Regions from separate parts of the Homo sapiens genome. Here region 2 is linked to region 1. A link means that fine-mapping ties the variant in region 1 to the expression of a gene that starts in the linked region. Tissue or cell type: whole blood. Region 1 holds a variant in brackets; the other region holds the start of a gene. All regions are shown on one strand. Distances are between the middles of the regions.

Region 1 (8,206 bases):
GTAGGAAGCATCAACTTCTCTGGACTCACTTTCCTTTCTCAATGAGGATGGTCAGAGGAGCCCAGGCCCCAAGCTGTAGGGTCTGTGAAAGAAGAGTAAACAAGCCATGAAGAAGCACACAGTCCATGGCGGCCTCTCCTCGGCCTGCAGAAGGGAGACAGGTGCCTTCTATTTGCAGATCCTGTGCTCTCCTAGCACATCACAAATCAAGGCCTTCCTGATGAACGGTTTCAGACGGTAGAGAGCATTCCTTCTGCCCCCCAGCATGGAACCCCCGACTAGTGCAACCTAAGGAACAGGGAAGGGATTCAGAAGGACCTTCCGGCATCTGGAAAGATTAGAAGATTAAGGAAGAAAATGTAGATCTGTCTCCTCCTCCTCCTCACCATCTTTACTGTAATAATGGTACTGCATTTCATTGCTTTGACATTGTTCCTTAAGGTGTTCAGAACACTTCACATAAGTTACCTCATCTACTCAACAGCACTAGGAAACATATTACTCCAGGTCCAGAGAAGAGACATGTGGAGAAGTTATATGTCTTTTTCAAGGTCAGAGGAATAACAGCAGAATCCAGTTATTGCTACTTTCAATGTAGTGTTGTATTTTTTTTTAACTGATACCACTTTTTGTTGACATTAACAATCATGACAATCATGATTCTACCCTCTCTGTAATTTTCATACAAATGCATTCAGAGTAACACTCCTAAATAAGGAATACATCCATCACTGCAGCCCTCAGCATGTCACCAACTTCTCACTGTTATATTATATCATTAATGCTTTGGGGATGAGGGCAGGGAAATGAAATGAAAAGATCAGGGAATTGAGCTGGGGTAACCCAGGGCTGCACAGCCCCCTTTCCCACATAGTCGTGTACCTGGGCCATGAGCCTCTGTAATGGAAACTAGCTGTCCTGAATCTTCCAGCCAGGAGCCCAGAGAAATCACCCGTGGGGCCCCTTATCTTCATTTCTCAAGCTCCTTAAGGGTGGATCCAAAATTCAACAGGAATGTTTGAACAGCTATGCTGTCACTTTGCCTGCATGACCAGCCCCCATTAAAGGAGAAACCAGAATGTCAGTAATAAACCAAACTGCCTTTCTTTTAAATTACTGTAGTTAAGCAACTAAACTACTCCAGGAGAGAAAAAAAGGGGTAAAGAAGTTGATTTGTACCACTGAGAACACTCCCGGGAACTTAATAAATATTGTAATTTTCTAAATAATACTTGATGATAGAAAAAAAATCCTTCTGATGTGCCATGTCAAAACCTTAAGTATGTTTACAATTTCTCTGAGAGATGCATTTCTCTCTTACCCTGTAAATTAAAACATCACAATTAAAAGGAGAGGAGGAGCCGGGCATGGTGGCTCACGCTTGTAATCCCAGCACTGTGGAAGGCTGAGGTGGGCCGATCACCTGAGGTCAGGAGTTTGAGACCAGCCTGACTAACATGGTGAAACCCTGTCTCTACTAAAAATACAAAAATTAACCGGGCGTAGTGGCGGGCATCTGTAACCCCAGCTACTCGGGAGGTTGAGGCAGGAGAATCACTTGAACCCGGGAGGCAAAGGTTGCAGTGAGCCGAGATGGTGCCACTGCACTCCAGCCTGGCAACAGGGCGAGACTCCACCTCAAAAAAAAAAAAAAAAAAAAAAGAGTAGGAGGTTAAGAGAATTTTCTATATATTGAGGGTTTTCTTTTTTCTTTTTGAATAGGCAATCTCATTTCAGAAAGAGGCAATATCAATGCCTCTGAGGTACTAAAACATAAATCTGACAATGCATTTTAATTACATGTGGTTATTAAAGAATAGTCTTTAATTTGCTCTTTCCACCCTTTATATCGAAGAAATGGCTTTTTCTGTGCCAGATACTTACTTCTCGCAAAAGCTTAACTCAAATACATTTACAGCTTCCTTGTCATTATAGTCACTGGGAGGCACAGCTAAACCTGAAACTAAAGGTTAAACCAAATTAAAACTAAAGGTTAAAGGAAAGCACTAAGCACTTCTATGTCAATTTATAGATGAATCACTTATGTATTCTTTTCCTTCCTAAATAAGGGCCTACACTGCTCCTGCAGAGCTTTTTCTTTTTAATTCTTTATTTAACCTACATCATGCAGGGAGTTTGCTCTTAAACATAGATGCTGTGGGCAAAAGAATGTTTTGGTGATAATAAATAATAGTATTCAAATGCTTGCCAGCTGGGTTCAGTATTTGTAAAATCAGTAATTAAGATGCATCCGGCTGGGACACTGGCTGAGTTGTCTAACTCCTTTCTGGTACCAAACTCTCTTGCCTCACGCACTTACTCTTTCTTGCAAGAGGCTTTTACCCCTACCAGTGTTGAGCCTGCCTCAAGCTCTTCCCCTCTCTTTTATTTTTATTTATCATTTTTTTGAGACGGAGTCTCGCTCTGTTGCCCAGGCCAGAGTGCAATGGCAAGATCTCGGCTCACTGCAAGCTCTGCCTCCCAGGTTCAAGTGATTCTCCTGCCTCAGCCTCCCAAGTAGCTGGGATCACAGACACGTGCCACCACATATGGCTAATTTTTATATTTTTAGTAGAGACAGGGTTTCGCGCTGTTGGCCAGGCTGGTCTTGAACTCCTGACCTCAGGTGATCCACCCGCCTCAGCTTCCCAAAGTGTTGGGATTACAGGTGTGAGCCACTGCGCCCAGCTCCTTCTTCTTTAAATAGTCTTTCCTTGGTCGTCCTTCCTTGGTCATCTTTCCAAAACAGCACTGTACTGCAGGTTAAAAAAAAAAAAAAAAAAAAAAAAAAAAGGGCTGGGCGGTGGCTCACGCCTGTAATCCCAGCACTTTGGGAGGCCGAGGCCGGCGAATCACGAGGTCAGGAGATGGAGACCATCCTGGCTAACACAGTGAAACCCCGTCTCTACTAAAAATACAAACAAATTAGCCGGGCGTGGTGGCGGGCGACTGTAGTCCCAGCTACTCTGGAGGCTGAGGCAGGAGAATGGCGTGAACCCGGGAGGCGGAGCTTGCAGTGAGCCGAGATCGCACCACTGCACTCCAGCCTGGGCGACAGAGCGAGATTCCGTCTCAAAAAAAAAAAAAAAAGGGTGGCCGGGCGTGGTAGCTCACACCTGTAATCCCAATACTTTCGGAGGCTGAGGTGGGTGGATAACTTGACGTTAGGAGTTCTAGACCAGCCTGGCCAACATGGTGAAACCCTATCTCTACTAAAAATACAAAAAAATTGCCAGGCATGGTGATACTTGTCTGTAATCCCAGCTACTCAGGAGGCTGAGGGAGAAGAATTGCTTGAACCCAGGAGTCAGAGGTTGCAGTGAGCCGAGATCACGCCACTGCACTCCAGACTGGGTGATGGAACGAGACTCCATCTCAAAAAAAAAAAAAAAAAAATGAGGTTCTCCTCTGGCTGCACCATTTATGAGCTGTGTGAACATTAGTAAATTATTTCACTTTTCTGAGACCAAGTTTCTTCATCACTATCTACTTTGAGTGGTTTTTGTGAAGATTATACATAATATATGTAAGGCACCTATAGAGTGCTGGCACATGGTCAGTGCTCCACTAGTAACGGCTGGATGATATTATGGTTATTCCTGTAACATTTTGTGTTCCCAACCTGGACACCCACCCTGATTCCTTAATCTTTTTTTTTTTAAGAGGCGGGGTCTTGCTATGTTGCCCAGGTTGGTCTTCAACTCCTGGCCTCAAGCCATCCTCCTGCCTCAGCCTCCTGAGTAGCTGGGATCACAGGTGCGAGCCACCACCTTGATTCCTGATTCCCTAATTTTGAATAAAATGCAATGGCTTGAAATAGAATTTGGGGAAATTTGCCCCCAAATTTAATATTGAATTTCTAACAAACAACACATTCCTCAAGTCTATGAGGATGCATTTATAGATACAAAACCTTCTATGACGCAAATTAGAAAGGTAATTTAGTATTTGTAATTTACTTGCTATCATGACCTGGTCTCAGACTAAGGATAATATTTTATGCTAGTTTTTAATGCTAAATGTATTTTCCTATTGTGAGTTCAATTTGTTCCTCAATTGCTCTTCTGTTTTTCTACTTTGTATGTTACCATACTATGTCCATTTTAAAACATCACATTCAGGGCAACAAATAGGTGTTTTCCTGAATTAATTTGCCTATAAAAACTAGGTACAGTGTGGTCTAGCACAATGGGCATTCAAAGAATTCTTTTTTGGTTTCCATGGACACTATTGCTGACTTCATTTCCCAGCCTCTTGCTATAGTCTCTCACCTAAACTCTAAGATATGGAAAGATATTGGGATCAGCAGGTAATAAACGAGTATTTCACATTATATTTACTAACCAGGTAACTACTTAAGTGCTGGATAAATGACTCAAAACAAAACATTAATTTCATTAGCTGCATATACCCCCATTAAAGAAGGTGAGCTGGGCCAGGCACGTGGCTTACGCCTATAATCCCAGCACTTTGGGAGGCTGAGGTGGGCGGGTCACCTGAGGTCAGTTCGAGACCAGCCTGGCCAACATGGTGAAACCCTGTCTCTACTAAAGATACAAAAAACAAAACAAAAAAAAGTAGCCGCGCATGCTGGCGCGTGCCTGTAATCCCAGCTACTCAGGAGGCTGAGACAGGAGGATGGCTTGAACCCAGGAGGCAGAGGTTGCAGTGAGCCAAGATCACACCATTGCACACCAGCCTGGGAGACAGGGCGAGACTCCGGCTCAGAAAAAAAGAAGGTGAGCTGGTGAGTGGGGTGAGATATTTTTAGGCTAATATATTCATATATATATATATATATATATATATATATATATATATATATTTTTTTTTTTTTTTTTTTTTTTTTTTTTGAGACAGAGTCTCGCTCTGTCGCCCAGGCTAGAGTGTGGAGGCACGATCTTGGCTCACTGCAACCTCCACCTCCCAGGTTCAAGCAATTCTCCTGCCTTAGCCTCCAGAGT[C/T]GCTGGGACTACAGGCATGTGCCACCACTCCCAGGTAATTTTTGTATTTGTAGTAGAGATAGGGTTTCACCATATTGGCCAGGCTGCTCTTGAACTCCTGACCTTGTGATCCGCCCTCCTCAGCCTCCCAAAGTGCTGAGATTACAGGCGTGAGCCATCGTTCCCGGCCAAAATATATATATATATATTTGATACAGAGTCTCACTCTGTCGCCCAGGCTGGAGTGCAGTGGCACGATTTCGGCTCACTGCAACTTCTGCCTCCCAGGTTCAAGCGATTCTTCTGCCTCAGCCTCCCGAAGAGCTGGGATTACAGGTATGCACCACCACACCTGACTAATGAATGCTGACCTCAAGTGATCCGCCCACCTTGGCCTCCCAAAGTGCTGAGATTACAGGTGTGAGCCACTGTGCCCAGGCCCAAAAGTTTTTTATATGTAAGTCCATGTTAAAGGATGACTCACCAAAATGCATTGCACACTACTCAAATGAAAGGAAGACAAAGTCTCTACCTATAAGGCACTTAAAGTGTATTTCAGATGGGAATGTCTAAAGAATATGGGATGTTCTAAACATGGACTATCTAAAAAACAAATTGAGGCCAGGTGCAGTGGCTCAAACCTATAATCTCAGCACTTTGGGAGGCTGAGGCGGGTAGATCACCTGAGGTCAGGAGTTCGAGACCAGCCTGACCAACATGGAGAAACCCTGTCTCTACTAAAAATACAAAATTAGCTGGGTGTGGTGGCACATGCCTGTAATCCCAGCTACTCGGGAGGCTGAGGCAGGAGAATCACTTGAACCCGGGAGGTGGAGGTTGCAATGAGCCAAGATCGCACCACTGCACTCCAGCCTGGGCAACAAGAGTGAAACTCCGTCTCAAAAATAAATAAACAAACAAATAAATAACAAAGTGAAATACACACAAGTCCTAATAATATGGTATAGACTGAAAAATTTCTGAGGCGTTAGTTCAAAATAATGGAAACATTAACAAAATGAAATCATACTGAGAAAGAGTTCTTACAGAAGAAAAGCTTCCAGTTGAGCCTTGAGCAATGTATAGGATTAACTGATAGGGTAGTAAGACATTCTAGAGGAAAAAAAAAAAATTACAGGACTTAACAGGGTACATGTCAGAGGTCAGAGCAAAGGCGCTTATATAGTAAGATAAGGAGAATTGACAGAGTTATAGAGATGGGGTATAGAGATAATTGGTTAAAGACAACTGCAAGGTTATAAGCCTAAGAGTAACAGGATGGTACCACCACCACCACCAGAATGACAGAAATGAGGCAGTTGAGAGGAAATACCATGGCTGGGCATGGTGGCTCATGCCTGTAATCCCAGCACTTTGGGAGGAGGAGGATCGCTTGAGCCCAGGAGTTTGAGACCAACCTCGGCAGCATAGCAAGACCCAGTCTCTAAAAAATAAATAAATAAAAAGAGGAGACACCAGTATATTAGAGAAGAAGTGTATTTATTTAACATTTTAAATTTCAAATGATGGCAACATGTTTAAGTAGAAAGTCCTGAAAACAACTGACTAGGTCTAAAAAAGAGAAAAAGATCTTCAATCTTGGGATGCGTTGCCAACACAACATGACAGTAGATGTCACACTTAGGTTTGCAAAAAATATAAGCATTTGGGGTTCATTTCAGTATTGGTCTAATTTAAATAAATGTGAAACGAGCCTTAAAAATGTACTTTCCAGTACTTTTGGTATTTTTCATAAATATTTAGATAAAAAAGAAAGACAATTCATCTCCTTTAGACAGACAGTTCAGGGTAAGACTGTCCATAATTTTAACTATCCCTTTCCTCCCAAGTCACATTTTTGTTAGGACTAAATATATCATACTCTTGGCAGTTCCCTTGCTTGCTTTCTCCCCATTCTGAGTTTGAATTTTCTGCATGACTGAGTTCACCTCCAAACTATGAAAAATAAAAGTTTTCTCACTATTTAATAGATGTGTATGATATGGTATCACTCAGATGATATATGTTTTTATAATGGGTGCTTGACTCATTCAGGGTCATGCTAGCAATAGACTTCCTTAAATGTGATTACTGAAAGCATGGCAATTCATATCATAATCTTCATTTTAAGAAATAAATAAGGAAAACGGCCACTTAAAGCTCCTGCTGTGTTGGTCAGTCCTACTCCTCCACTTCAAGGTGCAAAATGGCTCACCTGTCAAAAGGTTCTCTCAAAACCTATTTTTATCAGAAATGAGCTCCTTATCACACAAGAGCAGCTAAGTAAATACCACAAAATACTATTTTCCCACATTTTAAAAGAGTGACTCGACTAATGGTCTGCAAAAAATCCAAGACCTTATTTTTAGGGGTAAAAAAGAGAGCTGTAGACCCAGAAGGCCGAATGCGGTCTTTAAAGGATTCCACGTAATCTGAAAATTCCACGTATATTTCTATAGCAGGATGAGAATTTTTAGCCCAGTATAGCACAGTCCTTTTTATTTACATTTGCTAAGATTACATTGGTAAGATTAATATTTCCGATTTCAGGTTTGCCTAAAGGACCCACTGCATTTATGGAGAAACTGAAAAATGAAAAAGTAGCTCCTAGAACTCGTGCCAGCGAGAACTTGGTAAATGTTAGTTGATTAAATATTAGTCAAGGATGACAAGGTGGACCCCAGGGAGGGCAGAACCGTTTCCGATGGGTCAGTGTGATTCAGCTACGGGAAAGGCGATCGCAGCGACGCGGGAAGCAGAGATCGGCGACTGCTCAAGAGGCCTCAGGGGACAGGGTGACTCGCCACTGTGCCCTACCATACAGTGCGCTCTGGGAGTCCCGGGTAAAGGGGGTCATTCCCGCGAGGGATGCGGAGAGCAGAGCGGCCGGAGGAGCGGCTAGGGATCTCGCCGGGTCACCGGGGAGGGTAGACTACGTAGCCCCGAGAGCTTTGAGAACTTGGGCTGAAGGCGGCGCTCGCCGTGAGAACTGACGCGGAGGTGCAGCTTTGCAGCCCTACAGATGTTCTACCGCGTGTGCCTGGCGCTACCGCACGGGCTGACTCAGCTAGGCAGAGGCGGAGGCGGGCGCGCGGGAGACAGAACTATCCGCGGCGCCTGCCCGTGTACCCGGCTACCGCGCGCACGCGGGGAGACACCGCCCCGTTTGCCTTCTGGCTCCCGGTGATTGGCGGTTAGACGATGGCTGGGGAGCAGGGTCACGGACACTATTGGCTGCAAACAACAGTCACTCAAAAAGTCAG
Region 2 (5,950 bases), 45 kb before region 1:
TTTTTTTTTTTTTTTTGGAGTCTTGCTCTGTTGCCCAGGCTGGAGTACAGTGGCACGATCTCAGCTCACTGCAAGCTCCGCCTCCCAGGTTCACACCATTCTCCTGCCTCAGCCTCTGGAGTAGCTGGGACTACAGGTACCCACCACCACGCCCAGCTAATTTTTCGTATTTTTAGTAGAGACAGGGTTTCACCGTGTTAGCCAGGATGGTCTCGATCTCCTGACCTCGTGATCCACCCACCTCAGCCTCCCAAAGTGCTGGGATTACAGGTGTGAGCCAATAAATGCTTTTTACTAGAAAAGGCAAGAACCTGGATAAGACCTCTCTGGATAAATCATCAAACCTTTTGCAAGTGGCTACTCTTACCTTGTTGAAGTATTTCCATCCCTTCTCCAGGTGAGCAGAAATCCCCGGATGCCATTTGATTTTCTTGGGATTCTAATCTGTGGAACCAAGAAGTGAAAGAAAACAAAAAGATGAATAAACAGCTGGCTGCTCCAAGGACACTACCTTATGTTCAAATTTCTGCTGTCCACAAGCTGGAAAGGAACCTCAAGGATGACTTTTACAGAGGGCCTATACCACACATCCTGGGTCCCAAGCTCTTACACAAGCTTTATGGACAAACAGATTTACAAGTGCCAAAACATGTCACATTCTAAGCACACATGTGTTTCCACTTGCTCCAAGCTGTCCAAAAGGAGCATCCTAAAAAGAGAACTTTCCAATTCACTGAGTCTAAACAAGAGGATTCTCCACCACCACCACCATTATGCCAAAGTTAAAACTGAGCTGCAGCTTCCCAGTTATGAGTGAACTGGGGGAAAAGGGAAAAAAATCAAAGTCTACTTTTTCCCCCCAAATAACTCAGCTATCAAATTCCATAATAGTTTTTTTGTGCTTCTTTTTTTGTCTAAGATCTGTTGGTAGTTTTTTTTTTTTTTATCATTAACTCTAGAATCATCCTTCAGGAATGACAAATCATTCCACACTTGAACAACTGGTTTTCACATAACAGCCTAAGAAAAGAGCACCTGGAGGAAACAGCGTGACAAGAAGACTGACAGTGAGGTCAGTGGCAAAAGAGTAATGCAAAGGTGTAATGTGGCTACAACGAGAACGTGAGCTGTGGGTGTTTTGCCAGAACATGGAGTGCGCTGAAAGGAATGACACCAACACAGGGGCAGTAAAGATGGGCACAGTTTGACCTCAGGAGACAAAAATTTTCCCTTGACATTACTTTTCATGTTTTTGCTCTGCCCCTCCTCTCTGCAAGGTATCAAACTCCAAAGGGCAACTGAGCCTCCCAAAGCTGAACAGGCATTGAAGGTTATTATGATTTAACGCTTCATGTTTATAGAACATTTGGTTTACTCGATCGTTTTATGAGTAACATCAAAGTAACTACTCATTTGTTTTCTAACATGGTCTAGAGGGGGACGCAGCTGAGGAGGCAGAATGCTGGGACTTAATTTGCAGCTCGGCCGGCCGTTGCTTCTGAGAACTTAAGGAAAATGCTTTTTTCTGTGCCAAACTTTTCCCACCTGCAAAACTGAGATAACGATTCCTGCCTTGGATGAGACATTAAGAATTAATAACACAATCGACTTGTCAACAAAAGCCACTACTTAGTTAAGTTCAGTGTTTTAACAATTCTGTTTATCGTTGATCTATGACTGCAAATAAAAAGTTTTGCAGGCAAATTTCGCACTTGGAAATGAAGACCAACCCAAATTCCAAAAAGCTAGCTGTTCGTCCCCCCCTAGGGTAAGTGTCCCCTTGCGTTTTTTAGGGTGCCTTTCTTTACCCTTCTTAAAGGTTACAGGGCGTGAACGGCAATCAGGCTCGATTCTCCACCCTCTGCACTCAGACGTGTTAAAACGCTGCTACAGGGACCCAAGCATTTAAATGTTCTGACTCAGGCGTCTTTTAAATTCTTAGAGCTGTCTTTACACGCTGCACTGAACGTTAAATTGATTTTACAGGTTATTTTCACAAGATATGACCCTTACAGGGCCCGAGATGAATCAAAATGCAGAACGGGCTCTCCGGCGCCTACTTCCCTTCTGTCTGGGCGGCCAAGGATTCCCAAGAGCGACGACGGTCTCCGGCCACTGGCCGGAATGACTCTCCCAGAGCTCCTCTTCCCCGAAGCTCCGCCCGCCGACCCTCTAAAGCAAACCTGCACACCCTGGGGCAGCTGAAGCTCTCAAGGCGGTGCCGAGAACCTCGGCTGGGGCGGGCTGGCCAGCAGCGTCTACACCCCAGAACCCGCCCGCGCCGGGGCTCCGGAACCTCTCGTTCGGGCCGGGCGCAGGGGCTGGGGGAAGCGAGGCCCGGAAAGACCAAGCTGAAAGGCCCGGGAAGGGGAAGGAGCCGAAAGTGCACTAGAGGCCGCGACGAAGGAGGTGGAGGCGGGGCCACACTCGAGGCGGGAACGGCAGGCCCCGCCCCTCGACGGGTGCGCGCTGGGTTCCCAACGCCCTGGGTTCGCATGCTCGGGTGGTGGAACCCGGACTGGGAAACAGGATGGTCTCGGAAAGGCTTTTTTGCCCCTTCTCATTAGTGCCTCCCCAGTGAAGGGCAGATGCTGAGAAAATGGTGGTAATTGCTAACATTTATTGAGGGCCTACGATGAGTCAGGCACTACGCCAAGCATTTTGCTTGCCTTGCCTCGTTTTTTTTTTGAGACGGAGTCTCGCTCTGTCGCCCAGGCTGGGGTGCAGTGGCGCAATATCGGCTCGCTGCAAGCTCCGCCTCCCGGGTTCAAGCAATTCTCTGCCTCAGCCTCACGAGTAGCTGGGATTACAGGTGCCCGCCACCACGCCCGGCTAATTGTTGTATTTTTAGTAGAGACGGGGTTTCACCGTGTTAGCCAGGATGATCTGGATCTCCTGACCTCGTGATCCACCCGCCTCGGCCTCCCAAAGTGCTGGGATTACAGGCGTGAGCTACCGCCCTCGGCCAGGCCTCGTTTAGTTCTTAAAGCGTCCTGTGAGAAAGTCACCATTATACTCATTTTACAGAGGGGGAGAACTGAGGCACAAAGGGTTAAGTTCGAGGTCGCCATTTGGGGGGTCTAAACCTGTCCCAATAGCTCTCGGAAGGAACCTTCCCAGACCTGCCACCCAAGCCGCGTCCTGCGAGTCTCCTCACTAAGGCCTGGCTCTGAGGCGCTGCCGCCCAGCCCAGCCCAGCCCAGCCCAGCCCATGCCGGGCACCATACAGTGCTTCCTCAGGGTCACCTTCCTCTCGAATTCCCACCACAGACTCCCTATTAGCGCGCATTCCTCATTCGCCTGTTTTGTTTGTTTGTTTGTTTGTTTTCTTGGGGGTACGGAGTTTCGCACTTGTTGCCCAGGCTGGAGCGCAGTGGCACGATCTCGGCTCACCGCAACCTCCACCTCCCAGGTTCAAGCGATTCTCCTGCCCTAGCCTCCTGAGTAGCTGGGATTACCCGCACGAGCCACCACGCCTGGCTAATTTTTATATTTTTAGTAGAGACAGAGTTTCACAATATTGGCCAGGATGGTCTCGCACTCCTGACCTCAAGCAATCTGCCCGGCCAAATATCTTTCACCTGTCTTAATCTTTTTTTTTTTTTTTTTCCAGACGGAGTCTTGCTCTGTTGCCAGGCTGGAGTGCAGTGGCGCGATCTCTGCAACCTTCACCTCCCGGGTTCAAGCGATTCTCCTGCCTCAGCCTCCTGAGTAGCTGGGACTACAGGCGGGCGCCACCACGCCCAGGTAATTTTTTTTGTATTTTTAGTAGAGACGGGGTTTCACCACGTTGGCCAGGATGGTCTCAGTCTCCTGACCTCGTGATCCGCCCGCCTCGGCCTCCCAAAGTGCTGGGATTACAGGCATGAGCCACCGCGCCCGGCCCACCTGTCTTAACCTTAAACCCAACCCTCACTCCCACCCACACCTTCGGTGAATTATTTCAAAAATATAAATTTAAAAAAATAAAGAGCTGGGCATGGTGGCTCACGCCTGTAATCCCAGCACTTTGGGAGGCTGAGGCGGGCGGATCACGTGAAGTCAGGAGTTTGAGACCAGGCTGGCCAACCTGGTGAGACCCCCGTCTCTACTAAAAATACAAAAAATTAGCTCCAGAGGCTGAGGCAGGAGAATCGCTTGAACCCAGGAGGCGGAGGTTGCAGTGACCTGAGATCGTGCCACTGCACTCCAGCCTGGGCAACAGAGTGAGACTCGGTCTCGAAAAAAATTAAAAATAAATAAAAATTAAAAATAAAGAAAATGTTTAGGCGGGGTGCAGTGGCTCATGCCTGACCCAGCACTTTGGGAGGCCGAGGCAGGAGGATCACTTGAGCCCAGGAGTTCGAGACCAGCCTGGGCCACATGGCGAGACGATCCCCATCTCTACAAAAAAAAAATACAAAAAGAAAATATGCAATACTAAGTAAACTGTGCCAAGTATATCACATCTTTTACATTAGATAAGGTGATAGCCTGGAGTGATAGGAAAGGAATCTCCGTTAGGTGTGCTGAGAGATGGGGAGTTTCGCCTTTTCCTTCAGTACCAGCTACAGAATTCTATTAATATGCATAGAGGAATGGTGTGGTCCAGTGAAGAAATTTTATATTCTTGGTCAGCTCATCAGCTGCCACCTTTCATGCTTAATATTGAACTGCTGTCATTTTCTGAAGCTTTTAAAAATCATTTATGCTTCCTCAGCTCTGAAGCACAGCAAAGTTAAATATCAGGCATAATGTCCATAGCAAACGGCACTTGGAACAAAATAGCAAGTATGCTTTGGTGACTCAGAGCTGATCGGAAATCTACTGAAATTTTGTCTCTCAGATTTGTCAAGTTCTCTAATATGGTACTACGAAGCTTTGGCTAAAGTACTTTGGGGAATGAGGGGGTGAAGGATGGAGCAAGCTGTCTTCAGGTAGGAGGACAGAGGGGATAGTGATGCAAAGAAGCCTTGAATTGGATCAGACCTTCATGTGCAATTATCTGTTCCATCTCTGTCTCTACAAGTTGTGTGACCTTGGGCTTCAGGGTCCTTATCTGTCAAAAGGAGGAAATAACTTATTTCTAGCTCCTCCAATCTCATAGTGTCGATGTAATGATCAAATGAGATAATGGCTGAGAAAGTGCATTGGAAAGACTAAAAGTGAGGTGTTTTAAATTGACACTTATTATGCACCTATTAAGTGCCTTGGGAGAGACACAAAGCTAAATATGGCCCAGTCCTTGCCCCAAAGATGTTCATAATCTAAAAGATAAGACGTATGCACATGAAAAGCAAATAATACAAGGCAGCAAACTGGTGTCAAAAGAGCAGTTTAGATTATAAATACTAGAGAAACATGAAGAAGGTACAGAATTCTTTCTGCAGAAATAGATAGGATAGAATAGATGAAATAAATCTTACTTTCATTGGGCCTGAAAGGATAGAGAAAATTTGGATCATTTAGAATGAAGGAAACATCCCAGCAAATGGAAGCAGAGACAAGGGGAGTATAAACTGCATTCTAGGTCCAAGAGGAGACAGGACCAACCGAAGTGAAGGATTTTATAGGCCAGCTCTACGTAAGACTGGAAAGTTAAGCCTATAGTCCATCCTGGCAGTTAAAAATGCAGCAAAGGCCGGGTGCGGTGGCTCAAGCCTGTAATCCCAGCACTTTGGGAGGCCGAGGCAGGCAGATCACGAGGTCAGGAAATCAAGACCATCTTGGCTAACACGGTGAAACCCCGTCTCTACTAAAAATACAAAAAATCAGCTGGGCGTGGTGGCGGGTGCCTGTAATCCCAGCTACTCAGGAGGCTAAGCCAGGAGAATGGCGTCAACCCAGGAGGCGGAGCTTGCAGTGAGCGGAGATTGCACCACTGCACTCCAGCCTGGGCGACAGAGAGAGACTCCATCTCAAAAAAAAAAAAAAAAAAAAAAAGAGTGCAGTGAAGTGCTGGGAAAAAAAG

Evidence for each region. PIP is the estimated chance that this variant, and not a neighbour inherited with it, causes the effect.
Region 2: HAUS4 starts here. The variant in region 1 is fine-mapped to the expression of HAUS4 in whole blood (INTERVAL, PIP above 0.99). The same link has a PIP of 0.9 or more in monocytes.

Annotation. Positions count from the first base shown.
Region 1 is chr14:22,999,075-23,007,280 of GRCh38, forward strand. It overlaps C14orf93 (chromosome 14 open reading frame 93), which reads right to left. Exons shown (of 7, transcript NM_021944.4): 2 at 1-328. It overlaps LOC124903286 (a long non-coding RNA gene), which reads left to right and starts at 3,352. Exons shown (of 2, transcript XR_007064075.1): 1 at 3,352-4,309; 2 at 7,494-8,206. RefSeq lists an enhancer at 7,567-7,936 and a silencer at 8,097-8,146. The variant C/T (reference allele first, on the strand shown) is at 4,965.
Region 2 is chr14:22,954,733-22,960,682 of GRCh38, forward strand. It overlaps HAUS4 (HAUS augmin like complex subunit 4), which reads right to left and starts at 2,358. Exons shown (of 10, transcript NM_001166269.2): 1 at 2,184-2,358; 2 at 368-444. The coding sequence starts at 422. MIR4707 (microRNA 4707) reads right to left here and starts at 2,297; the gene lies at 2,218-2,297. RefSeq lists enhancers at 2,050-2,179, 2,562-3,141, 3,142-3,720 and a silencer at 3,520-3,880.